Linked DNA regions of Homo sapiens. The protein of the gene in region 2 interacts with the protein of the main gene of each other region in a pairwise test. Each region holds a gene or a part of one and is shown on either strand. Other genes may lie near its edges. The genes, in order: SYCP2 and SYCP3.

Evidence for each region.
Region 1: the proteins of SYCP3 (region 2) and SYCP2 interact in a two-hybrid assay, tested with the Homo sapiens proteins (one study listed by BioGRID).

The regions. Positions count from the first base shown.
Region 1 is NC_000020.11:59,923,604-59,930,890, forward strand, and holds part of SYCP2 (synaptonemal complex protein 2), read right to left. Parts: intron 1-7,287. UniProt on the Homo sapiens protein: Major component of the axial/lateral elements of synaptonemal complexes (SCS) during meiotic prophase. Plays a role in the assembly of synaptonemal complexes.
Region 2 is NC_000012.12:101,729,380-101,736,666, forward strand, and holds part of SYCP3 (synaptonemal complex protein 3), read right to left. Parts: intron 5,666-7,287; coding exon 5,548-5,665; intron 4,296-5,547; coding exon 4,196-4,295; intron 2,288-4,195; coding exon 2,189-2,287; intron 1-2,188.

The DNA.
Region 1 (7,287 bases), on a different chromosome or scaffold from region 2:
GGGGTGAGAAATTGCTTGAGCCTAGAAGTTGAAGGTTACAGTGAGCTATGACTACAACACTGTACTCTAGCCTAGTCAAGAGAGGGAGACTCTGTCTCTAAAATAAACAAAAAGAATGCATGTCATCATTTCTAAGGTAACCACTAAATGAGTAGTGAAAGAATACGTAACTACTAAGCTAAGTGTGAGGAGGGAGGCTGTAATGTTTTCATTTTAATCAATCCAGAGAGAGAGAGAGAAACAGAAAGAGACCCAGAAGAAGAAAGAAAAACAGACAACACAAAGTAAGGTGATAGATTAAAAGTTACATATCAATAATTACATTGAAAGTAAAATATATTAAATACTCTGAAGAAGTAAGAATGTCACCCTCCCAATATGCTGCTCTGACATATTGACTATTTTAAATTAAAGGCACTCAACAAAAAACAGCAGGTACAAGATCACTCCCACCTTCATTCTGTTTCCTAAAAGCAGGAAATGAAATTCCCATGTGAAAGATGTCCTCTCTATACCAAAAGAGAAGTAATCTTATAATTAAGGAGGGGAAGTTAAAATTAAGAAAATCTGTACAACCAAACTTTGTTAAACCCACTCCTATCTTCCTAGTCATTTCTCCACCCAATTAACTACCCTAGCCTAAGGCCTCTTTGCCTTATCTTAGTTCACAACTTACTATTCTTTGTCCAATTCAGTATATAACTGACCCTAACTACTTCTTTGGGTCTTCATGTTCTTATGAGGGATCCTGTGTCATGTAAAACATGTATTAAAGAAATTTGTGTGTTTTTCTCCAGTTGATCTGTCTATGTCAATTTAACTCTAAAAGGGAAGAGGTAAAGTTTTGCCTCCCCTACAACTCCAATTAAAAGGCAGATTGTCCTCAAAGGATCAGTGCTTGAGGGATGGATACCCCATTCTCCATAATGTGCTCATTTAACATTGCGTGCCTGTATCAAAACATCTTACATACTCCATTGACACCTACTATGTACCCACAAAAATTAAAAAGAAAAAAGTTGGATTGTCGGGTAGGTTAATCATTTTTAAAACTATATGCTGTCCAAAAATATTATATTTTAAGAGATATACCTTAAATAAAGGGCTACAAAACAGTTGGAAATAAAAAGAAAAGATAGCTACCACACAAACAAAAGAAAGCTAATAAAACTATATTACTGTTGGATTTACCATAAAAGTCCAACACAGATGGTACTGAAAAGAGAATCCAGAAACAGACCTATACACATGACTTGACTTATGATCAAGGTAGAACATAAAGCAGTAAGGAAAGGGTAAGATAATCTTTTCAATTAATCTATACTGTTCAACTGGATGTTCATAAGAAATATAACAAAACCTCACTACTTCATACCATCTCATACCATATGCAAACACCATTTCCAGGTGGAATGAAAATTGAGAACAATTAAGTTTCTAGAACATAATATATTAGAACATCTTCATGACCTGCAATAAGCAATAAGCAAGATTATAAAAAGCTCTAACCATAAAAGACAACTGATAAGTTGGACAACCTTAAAATCAGAAACTCTTGTTCAATGAGAACACATGGATACAGGGAGGGGAACAACACACACTGGTGCCTGGTGGGGCAGCAGGAGGGAGAGCATTAGGAAAAATGGCTAATGCATGCTTAGTTTAATACTTACAGGTTGATAGGTGCAGCAAACCACCATGACACACATTTTCCTATGCAACAAACCTGCACATCTTGCACATGTAGCCCAGAACTTAAAATAACCTATTGATTTTCTCAATCCATGAGCATAGGATTTAACAAAAGAAAGAACTCTGTTGGAAAACATCATTGAGAGAACAAGGCAGGCCACACAGATGAAAGTATTTTTCTCTTGTACATTATTCACATGTGTGAATATTCACAACTGTTACTAAGTTATCTGGTTATCAGTTAATGTAAACATACTCTTGGAAACATGAACTGAATAAAAGGGTCCTATTTTGGCACCTCAGCCTATTTAATGTCATAGCCTCTGACCTTCCACCTTCAAAAGAGTCTATAACTCTGACCAGTTGCCTCACTTGTTAACGTATTGCCCTGGTAACAAGGTTATAATTGACATCTTTGATTCCTAAATGTTTTAAATAGAGGGAAGATTTCCTCATCAAACAGAGGATTACTGGGACTACTACTGCTCCCAAATGCATGTAGGTACTATAATTTATTATCAATCTGTTAGATTTCTTTTTTTAAGAAAACCAGAAGTTCATGAGTGTTCATTTAGATGAAGTGAAGCAGAACAATACTGCCTGCTTTAAAACCTCACTAGTTTGTCAAAACCTCACAGAGAACTGTGGAAATAATAGCTCTGAATTTATGTTTGTCTATAGGCTCAGAATTCTTCCTAACCCCACCTCCTAGTATTAAGGAAACAAACTTTAGAAGTAACAAAAGCAGCTTCCATTCAGGAATCTGCTGGGAGACAGTCTCCAGCCAAAACAAATATGGATTGAAGGAGGAACCTTCTCCTGTAAGACAGGTTTCATAAATCCAATAAATTCCATAAGGGATGGAATTGTGCCAACTGCCTCTGTAACAAGAAGAAAAATGTTTGCTCACAGCTATGTGTGGACTCTCACTGTATTAATTTCCTAGGGTTGCCTTAACAAAGTGCCACAAACTGGATGGCTTAGAACAGCAGAAATTATCTCAGTGTGGAGGCAAGACGTCTAAAGTAAAGGGGTCAGTAGGATCATACTCCCTCTGAAAGTGCTGGAAGAAGGATCTTTAAGCTTCTGGTAGCTGCCGACATTCTTTGACTTGTGGCAGTATAAATCCACTCTCTGCCTCCTTTATCACATGGTATTCTTCCTTTTACTTTTCACATTGTCTTCTATGCATATCTGTATCCAAATTTCCCCTTTTTATAAATATATATTGGGTTAGGGCCCACCCTAATAACTTAAATAATAAGTTAATAACTTAACTTGGTTAAATGCAAAAGACCCTATTTCCAGAAAAGGTCACATTCTGAGATACTGGGAATTAGAATCTCACATATCTTTTTAGGGGAACACAATTCAACCCATAACAGTCACTACATAAAGCCCAAACTTAATATTGGAATGCCAAAAACATGGGATTCAAAGAAGAAATAAAAGTTGAGGTTTTGAATGTACTGGGTGGGGAAGGAAAACATGTCATATAAGAGCTAGTAACCAGGGCAGCCTGGGTTACCCCCTTGCACATAAGGCAGCAATGCCATTACAGGGTGACATAATTATAGAAATTTTCCTCAAATGTAGTGCCAAAATTAGCCTCTTGCTGAAATATTTTCTCCATTTCAATTAAAGTGAAACAAGTCAGATTCTGGATAACTGACAGAGACTGGTCTACTGGAAATATATACCAGAACTTTGGCATTGGACAAACAGTTTCTGAGAACATATAACTGGTACTTCCTTTCCATGGAAAACAGCTGAAGCTACAGCTGATGAAAGAACTCCAACTCCACCAAAGAATCTGACTGCACTTGAACGTAATGAGATTTGTTGAGAATGTGTCTTTGGGACTTAAAAGTTTTGGCCTTTAGACTTTTAAATTCAGAAGCACAAAAAAAGGATTCTGGACACTTAAATCTTTCAGTCCTTGGTCTTTAACTTGTAAAGGGTTTTAATCTTGCAACCTTAATGTTCCCTGAGATGTTCAAAACAGAAAATCTTTACATTCAAATTTGTTGGCATTTTACTGCTGAAACATCTTTATGTATTGCCAAATACCTTTGTTCAGTATAGTACATCAAAGGCTCTACCATATATCTAGAGATAATTTGGAATGGGAAGTAAAACAGTGACATTTCTGCCTCAGATATAGAGTGGCATTAGGTTTCAATTTTCTGTTCTAACCCAAAGTAGAATCTTCTTCCAGGGTCAACATCTAAAGTTCTTCCACAATCCAAAGAGAATACCCAAAAGAAGGTAATGGCCTCATGAAGAAAGGAAAAGAACCATCCAGATAAATCTCCTCCAAAAAACAGGTTAATAATTAAGTGAACAAAAAGCTAGGAAATGTTAGAGAGAAATACCTTTTCCCTACTCCTAGCTTCCGTGAGAAAGACTGAGTATACCATCGGCCTCTCTCTATTTCTTTAATTTACATCACCACTGAGGAGCTGGAAATATTTGATTGGTAAATTTGGGAAGGAAAATGAGCCAGGCTCAGCTCAGGCTCACCCTTTTGTTTACATGAAAACTGAAAGAGGAGTTTCATGTTGTTTTCAGTTTTGTTCCTTCTGGAAGCTCTGCCCCTGTGAGAAAGTCAGTATTTTGTTCTGTCCTTTTTTTCTGGAGTCAATACAGTAAGCTTTCTCTTCCAGGGTGGAAGGTGAAAAATGCAGGGCTGGAAAGGTCTAACTCAATTACCTTGCAGTGCCTTGGGCAGTAAGTTTGCTCAATTCTGGAGCTCAGTATTAGCAAATTCACTAGGCCAACAACCTAAACTCACACCCATGAACCTAGCCAATATAGGACTAATGAAGGTTACGTTTCTTTTCCTACTCTGTCAGAACCCAGGAAGAAAGAGGAATGCTGTTTATCAGAGGACCTTTGAGAGATTCCAGCGAGGCTCAACATAAATATCTACAGTGTTCCTTTTTATATTAGCAATAATCAGACAATTGCATTTTTTAATATAAATAACTAAAATGAATAAATCTAACAAAAAGATCTTAACAAGAGATATGAATACATGGAGTTGTTCCTATTCATTAATGGAAGGACTTAACATTATAAAACCATCAATGCTTCACTAAAATAAACATCTGAATTTCTAAACTCCAAAGCAATTCCAGTAAAAATCACAAAATAATAATTTGAGAGATTTGGCTAATTCTTTTAAAACATGTATGGAGGAATAATGCTGCTCTAATACTAAAATAACTTTTAAAATATTAGAGAAGAAAAATCACCTTATTTGATATTAAAACATATTACAAAGTCACAAGAAATAACTATAAACAGTGAAGTATTAAGAATGGAAAACAAATGGATCAATAAAACAAAACAGAATTCAAACACATAAGCATATATTGGAAGTTCATATTTGAGTCAGATGGTTTCGCAAATCGGGAAAGGTAAACTGGTCAATAAATGGTCTGGGAAAAGTGACTTGGCATGTGGAAAAAATAACATTAGAAATCTATTTTGCCATAAAAAAATAAGGTCTAGATAAATTAACTACATGAATGTAAAAAGTAAATGTTTATAAACTATTAGCAGAAAATTCAGGAGGCTATCACTAAGATGTTCCAAGAGGAAAGAATTTAAAACAAATGCACAAAACATAAAAAGTAATAGATTTTAACTTTTTGTGCATCACTGTTTGTAAAAGAGAGGCAGCATACTAGGAAGACATTTGCAATGGAATAAGAGACTAAGGATTAACATAAAAAGTATTATTATGAAGAACTTAACAAATCAAGGAGGAAAAAAAAGCAATAACCCAACAGCAAAAATGGAAAAGAAGAAGAGGTCATTCAGAAAGTAAAACTCAACTGGCTAATAAAGAAATGAAAATGCTACCTCCATGGTAATCAGAATGCTAGTAAAACAATAACCAGTCCCCTCTCCACCATCCACCATATTGGCAAAAACTAAAGAGACTGATACTACGAAGTCACAGTGGGAATAAAGGAAATTGGAAATCATGTATGTACTCCTGGTGGGAAGCAAATAACTGCACTTTGAAAAAGAGTTTGATAGCATTGGGTAAAAATGTAAACTTGAATACCATATGACACAGTAGTTCCACTTCTAATTTTACACTTTAGAGAAACTCAGAAGCACAAAGGGAATATAAAAATATTTACTGAAGCATTTCTTCTAATATCAAGAAACTGAAAACTGCCTCTGTCAGTGTGTTGGGTGAGGAGGTAAACATGAAATGTGGTGAGTGATGCAACTGAATTCAGTAGCTGAATATAATGAAGAAGATCTGTATCTCAGAATATGGTGCATCTCAAACACAATATAAAGCATAAAAAATGCAGAATGAGATAATAGAAATTCTTTATGTAAAATCTAAAGTATACTTAATAAAGGCTTATATGCACTGTTATTGATATGTGTATATCTGTGTAACACCAGAGGATACTTTATTAAAGAAGGATACAAATACTGGGCATATGAACATTGGATGATTTGCACAGGTAAAGAAAATAACCCTAGGGATAGGGAATAAAATGGACCAAAAGACAAAAAAAAAAAGAGAATTTTAATTATTTATTTAGAGGAGTGTAGTAAAGCATGGTGTCTAGACTGAGAATACAATTGATTAAATTAACTTAATTCTGTTTCCTAAGGTTCAACATACACTCATATATACCCTTTCAATCACCACAACCATTAGGACAGAGCAAAAGGGGCCCCTGCTATGCGCTCTATATAGTGTAATCTCTTTCTCACTATCTCTTATTACTGAGCACACAGGCATCTCTATTAGCTCAAAATCCAGGACTCAGCCCTACCCCCAGAAAGTCTATAACCATGAACACATTATTCATTCTCATAACTCTATCTTTCAGGCCCCTGAACTTCCTTTGCCTATGCCTATGAAAGAAGAGGACTGCAATTAATTACACTATTCTGCTTACTTTACGTATGTCCGAATTTTCCATAATAATAAAAAAAAAATGCTTAAAGAAGTCGGGGAGTGTGAAGCCACAATTGAATACAGAGAAGGTTTCAGATTGTGCTAATGCTAACATTTTAGTCTCTGCTTCAGAACAAAGATAGCATGTGAGCAAGTGCTTAGGTAAGAGAAAAGAGATATTGTCAAATCCTTCCCCTGCAAAGCAAGAACACAGATGATTCTTGCATGACAAGATACTACTTCTTAACAGTGCCAAATGCCCATCTTCTTCCTTCTCTTTTTACTCCAATTTGTGACTCTAGAAATACTAGCAAATTAGTGCACAGTATTTGCAACAGTAGCACATGGTGGCTGAGGAACATTCTGTAGTAGTAAGCAATCTATATTAATATATATGTAGATCTAGACATGAACTACGTGAACATGATATGGACTCTTTAGACAGTAAGCAAACACTAAAATAGTGAATAAATGTATTGTTATAATATTTAATAATATGCAATTATTCAAAAATAAGCAATTCCGGTGTTATTAAAATTTTTTAAGGAAACAATTACAATTCTACAATAATTTTAATATTTAAGAATTTTTTAAAGAAAAATACTTTTTACACCTATTTTATGTTTGTGATATAAACCCAAATTTGATACATTTTG
Region 2 (7,287 bases):
AAAGAAAAAATATAAGACATGAATAAAATGTTATAGGAAGTACAATGTAGTATACTTTGCCCACAATGGGTTTCCTGAACTGTTAAGGTCAAGATAAAAAAGACTGGAAGTCCCACATCAGTAAAAACCATTTCTATTAAGCTTTCCAAATATCAAGCAATAATCTACTTATGACTAATAGTGTGCCATGAATTCACTAGAGGGAATAAAATAATCTATAGTACAACCTCTTTCACATTATGAAAAATAAAAATTATGTCTTACGTCTTTATTATTCATTCAACAAACAGTTAATCTGGTGCCTACTATGTAAAAGGTGTGTATTAAGTGCTGTAGAGAAATTAAAAAACAATAATACATGATTGCTTCCTGATGGCAATGAGAAAAAAACATAGGAACAAAACAAAAATTTTATAATAGGAATGGAAGCACAACTTGCTGTGGTGATATAGTGGAAAATGGGGATTAATTCCAATTTAGTGGGCAAAATACTAAGATTTCAATAGATAAAGAAAAAGGAGTTAAATATATTCTAGGGGAAGGGCATAAGCAGAAGCATGGAAGTACATAGTGAGCTGAGAGAAAGCAGTTATGTGGAGGGGTGGGGTAATGAACAAATGTAGTAAATGAAGCTTAAAAAGAGGGTCATGTCATAGGGGGATCTTCAATACCTAAGAATTTAGAACAGGAGGCTACTGACAGTTTTTCAAGAGGGAAGAGATATATTTTTAAAAGATAATATGGCAGATCTAGGAGGGATAGATTGGAGAACAGAGACATCAGTTAAGAATTTTAATGGTACAAGCAAATAATAATGAGGTCCTAAACTAGGGTAGTAGCAGTGGGCATTAAAAGAAAGAACCACTGCAGAAGTAAAAATTACAGGGCCTAGTAATAACTGGATGTGACAGAGAAAGGAGATGGAAGAGTCAAAGGTTATACTATAGTTCCTATCCTAAATAGTAACATTTAGTGATAACATTTAGAAGAAATCTTTATCTAGTACTTTATCAAAACTTCACACCAACTACCAAATGGTTCTCAGAGCATTGGAACAAGACAACAAGTTTTCCACTTGGAAATACTTTTTAAAATAACATGTGTGTGTATAATTTTTTTTTTTTTTTTTTTTTTGAGGCAGGGTCTCGCTGTCGCCCAGGCTGGAGTACAGTAGTACGATTTCAGCTCACTGCAACCTTTGCCTCCAGGGCTCAAGTGATCCTCCCACCTCAGCCTTCCCAGTAGCTGGGACTACAGGTGAGTGCCACCATGCCCAGCTATTTTTGTTTGTTTGTTTGTTCTTAATAGAGATGGGGTTTTGTCATGTTGCTCAGGCTGGTCTTGAAACCCTGGGCTCGAGTGATCTCGCCTTGGCATCCCAAAGTGTCAGCCACTGTGCTCGGCCATATATATTAAAGTTATTCTGAAATATTTATTTTAAAACAATTTTGCTAGTTTACTTAGAGCATCCCAATTCCTTTAATGTTATTTTAACATGTATTTGCACAAGACTATCTAAAGGAACCACCACTGAAAAAAAGTATATGCAAGATTCCATTGAGCTTCTATGAATAGTTACTAAAAAGTATATTTCTGCCTGAACAAGAGGGGTACAGACTACAATTTGCTAATATGTATGTGTCAGTAGATAATTATCAATCCACAGACTTTTAATCCTCAGATGTCTATTATATCTGTTATTTTATGTTGGATATAAATTCATTTTTGGTCACTGTAATAATTCTAAAAGCAAATGTGCCATAAAATACTTCTATAATACATTTGAAAACAAGAGAATTCAATAATTTGGGTACTTTCTATTTAACAAACACTGGGGATAAAAAAACAAGTAAAATACAACCTAAAAATGATTATTATAGAGTCTATTTTCACTTAAACAGAGAACTATGACTGAAGTGTTATTAAAGTATGGATTTTATGCATGATAAGTATATTTCTAAGTAAAATTCCCAATTTACCATTTCCTGTCTTGAATAATCCCAACAAAACCATTTGAATCCTCAAGTAAAAATATATTTATCACTTAAATCAGAAACAATGAATTCAAAATGGAAAAGTAGTTAAAGTCTAAAATGTTTTTTCCCATAAACTTAGAAAGAATTATCTTCTACTTCCATAAATATATTATGTTTTATAACGATGTATTGTGTTACCACATACAACAAACCTTTATGAACTGCTCATATAACTGTTTAATTGTTTTCAATCTCTGGCTCTGAACAATTCTAGATTGTTGAAGAATCTTTTGTTGCTGTCGAAACATATTCTACAAATATAAAAGAAAAAAAACTGTGTAATAACAATTTGGGTAAAATTTTAAATTTAGAAAAAATAATTCTACATTAAACTTAAAAGAAAGTGTTAAAAATCAATGCTTTTAAAATTTTAACAACTATTATGACCACATTTAGATAATTTATGTTCACCACTAATATGTAACAATATATTAATTCTACCAGTTGCTGAATGGGAAATTTTAACAATAATCAAGTCATGTCTTAATTCTTGGTGATTTCAATGTCCACACAGATGATCCTTCCAATAATAATGGTTTTCCGTTTCGTGACCTGTTTCTCAATGATTTTGGCCTCTACCCTACTTTAGCCATTGACTTACATACTCCCACCCTAGATTTTGTCATTACTAATAATTCTAACCACTACACAGTATTAGTAATGGTAAACTTTCTAAGAGATAGATACTCAGCATTCCCCTTTCATAGATGAGTAAACTGAGGCATAATCTGTCCATGGTTTCACAGCTACAATTGCTCAAACAAGAATTTGATCCAAAACAGTATTGTTGCTGGCATCCAGGCTCTAACCATTATACATACTGTTTCTCTGTCTATCCTAGTATTTAACCACTACTTCTTTACCATTCTAACTTACTCTTTTTAGTACTACAGCTCAATAATCTATCAGTGCCACAAATCCATCCTATCTATTTTACACTGTCATCCCTACCCCCAATATCCTCACTTGCAGGTAACACAAGTCTGGCCATTAAAAGTCAACAATGTTCTGACTACAGACATCCTTAGGTATCCTGGGGGGACCAGTTCCAGGACACCCAACCCCTCAGGAGACCAAAATGTGCAGATGCTCGAGTTCCTGTTACAAAATGGCATCATATTTGCATATAACCAATGCACATCCTTCCACATACTTTAAATCATTTCTAGATCTCTTATAATACCTAACACAATGTAAATGCTGTATAGTTGTAACACTGGATTATTTTTCCAATTTGCATTTTTTCTTTTTTCTTTTTTTTTTTTTTTCAAGAAAGGGTCTCCCTCTGTCACCCAGGCTGGAGTGCAGTGGCACAATCTCGGCTCACTGCAGCCTCCGCCTCCCAGGTTCAAGTGATTCTCCCGCCTCAGCCTCCTGAGTAACTTGGATTATAGGCACACGCCATCACAGCCCGGCTAATTTTTGTATTTCTAGTAGAGATGGGTTTTCACCATATTGGTCAGGCTGGTCTCAAACTCCCAACCTCAGGTGATCCACCCGCCTCGGCCTCCCAAAGTGCTGGGATTACAGGCATGAACCACCACCACGCCCAGCCTTTTCCAAATATTTTTCATCCACGATTGGTTGAATACACAGATGCGGAACCCTTATATACAGAGGGCTAACTATACAATGATTGGTTCAAGAATGGGCAAATGATCCAAACTCCCATCAGTCATATTTTCCCAGAGGAATTTTTTGCCAGAGCTATTGAGAAAGATTTTCTCAGTCCACTGGGGTTACTAAACTTGTAATAAGCCTAGGACTGTAAAAACTATCTTGCTTACTACATCAAGACACCTTACTAAGTACTGATGACAGAACCCAGATGACACTACATGAGCAACCCCCTCCCTGTTCCCATCTGGCTATGCCTGAAGCTAAACTGCCCCGACTTCTTTTACATAAACCAATGATCCTTCTTTTGTACTTTGACAAATTTCTGTCACTTGGAAATGCAGGAACCCCAAACAATATAAATGCCTTTTATGAGTATGGTATGTGCCTATACGTCTGTGGTTTACAGTTCAGTAGGTTTAAAACACATGGCCAGCAATGGTTAATGAAACCTGGCTCAGTTCCACTGGTCACAATAAAAGGCTAGGTTGTCCATTCCTACTTGAGACTTGGTTGATTATAAACCTAATCATGATACCAACAAGTATTTTTTCTTCTTGTTCCTCAGCTTTCTGCATATCTAAATCCCACTGCTGAAACAAAGTCAGAAACTGCTGAGAATATTCTTGGTTAAGCTTCTGCCTGTAAAACATAATGATGAATTATTGTCATATTTCATACCAATATAAAAAGAATTTAAAACAAAACTGAGTTGACACAGTTATACTATATAAGAAAAGGAAATACCTGCAGCTTAAGTCTTCTGATGGGAAACCAAAAAGTAAAATTATGATTTACACTGATTCCAGAAGTATTTTTTTTCTAACAAACTAATAGAAGAAAAGCCCTGTCACAAGCTTTAGCTCTTGAAAACTAAGGAAGTTTTATTGTATATATAAATTTTCAAAAAGAAATTCATCTGATCTCTAAGCAGTTTATTTTTCATTTTTTTCCTATTGAATATAGATTCTGATATAACAAATACATTAAATAAGGTGATTGTATTTATCCTATAAGATTTCTAAATAGAAATAGTTCGCTTAATTTTTTTCCCTATTTTGGCTTAACAAAAGATTTTATACAAAAGAAGAGTTAAGTCAGCTAAAACATACAAATTATATACGATACAAGATTGGTGTTCTTCTACATTGTTGAACATAATTCACCATCATAAGACTAACGGTTTTTATGACATTTACCTTTTATTCAACTAGTGTATTTCTAGAATGAACATAAATTACTTTTAGGCTGGGCATGGTGGTTCATGCCTATAATCCCAGCACTTGGGAGGCTGAGGTGAGAGGATCGCTTGAGCCTAGGAGTTCAAGACCAGCCTGGGCAACATAATGAGACCCCCATCTCATAAAACAACAACAAAAAACGAAATTACTTTTATAACCTCACTTGTTACCTAAAAGGAAAAAAGTGATCTTTATTGATTTTTTAGGAAATAATGTCAATTCTATGAAGGAGTGAGGTTATAGGGCTACAGGACTATCATACTTAGAGAAAAATCAAGCCAAATACATTTTCACTAGAAACCCCAGTAACTAGAATAGTATTTTTCTTTTCTTGTTTTTTTTGACAGAGTCTCACTCTGTTGCCCAGGCTAGAGTGCAGTGTCACGACCTTGGCTCACTGTAACCTCTGCCTCCTAGGTTCAAGCGAGCACGCCTGGTTAATTTTTGTATTTTTAGTAGAGATGGAGTTTCACCATGTTGGCCAGGCTGGTCTCTAACTCCTGACCTCAAGTGATCTGCCTGCCTTGGCCTCCCAAAGTGCTGGGATTACTGGCATGAGCCACCGTGCCGATCCTAGAATAGTATTTTTCATAAGTAATTTATACCAGTAAATACTAAGAAATGTGGCTCTAAAAAAAAAGCAACCACCTTACCTTTGATCTTGTTGTGTTTTCCAAACATGTTCAATTTTCTGGTTACTAGTTTTGAGAGAAGCCTTGGTATACATTTCTAGTCTCTTTCTCTTGGCAAGAAGAGCCTTGTTAATGTCAACTAGATTGAAAATAAAAATTCATTAAAATTTAATGTTGAAAAAAGTATTTTGTTCCCACATATTCAAGTAAATATGGGTAAGGTTGGTTCAACAATATTGGAAAGACATTTAAACTTAAATTTAGAAATAGGCATAATTTCAAAATGCAGAATTGTTTGCTTACTTTTTTTTTCTGAGAAAACTCTCAGCTACTAGCACCCAAATTCTGATTTTCCTAACTGGAGATAATTTTTTAACTTAGGAACAATAAAAAAGAGCTAATAAACAAAACAATGTGTCAAGGACAGACTTTAAATTTCCCCATGAGAAAACACTGTTAATAAAGGCTAAATGTAGGCCAGACGCGGTGGCTCACACCTGTAATCCCAGCACTTTGGGAGTCTGAGGCAGGCAGATCACAAGGTCAAAAGATCGAGACCATCCTGACCAACGTGGTGAAAGCCTGTCTCTACTAAAAATACAAAAATTAGCTGGGCGTGGTGGCGCACACCTGTAGTCACAACTACTTGGCAGACTGAGGCAGGAGAATCGCTTGAACCCGGGAGGCAGAGGTTGCAGTGAGCTGAGATTGCACCACTGCACTCCAGCCTGGGGACAGAGTGAGACTCCGTCTCAAAAATAAAAAAAAATTTTTAAAAAGGCTAAATTTATCTAAATTTATAAAATACACCCCAATTAAAAGGACACATTTCAATGAATTATTGTTAGAACTCATTATAGAAAATATGTAAAAGTACTCTATTAGAAAGAATCCAAAAAGGATAAAAATAGTTAAAGAAGAAAACTATTTTTAATATAATCAATTTTATATATATATATATATATATTTTTTTTTTTTTAAAGACACGGGGGTCTCACTATGTTGACCAAGCTGGTCTTGAACTCCTGGCCTCAAGCAATCCTCCTGCCTTGGCCTTCCAAAGTGCTGGAATTACAGGTGTGAGCCCCTGTGCCTGGCCATCAATGATACTTTTAAATACATTTTTTACTAAGAGACAAAGACCAAGGACAGAAAAAAATCTTAGTTTAAGTAAATTTCTAGATAAATTAAGATCACTTTATTTTTCAATGAGAAATAGGTGAATAAGATCAGTTTTAAATGCTTTTGTGGAGCTCTTTATTGGGCATTTTTACCCATAAGAACTGCATTTCATAAAATGTTTACTACTTCAAATAATGCTTTGCTAAACATAAGCCTTTATCTTATGGATCTACCATAAATAGGTATCTTTCAGTAATCATGCTGTAGCTGCACTATTACATAAATATTTTATACTTTCAGTATTATCTATAATAAATTTATAAAACAAGCACTGTTTCACCACCGGACAGAGCAAAGGTTTCAAAAAAGAGTTGACTGTATGAACAATCCATTTAGAGGAGCTAAATATTAACTCTTTTTTAAGATAACTAATCTCTAACAAAGCTCATATTATTGATACTTAATATATTATTTAAAACTTGAGAATTTTTGAACCTAATTATAAAACTCTATCTAGCAAAATTGTCTTTAGTATCAACTACATAGTTTATTAATGTAAAAAGAGTTATTTTAGAGGCTTAATTTACACTGTCCTCCCTAAAGAAAATAGCATAGGAAGTCAGAAAATAACTAAACTGA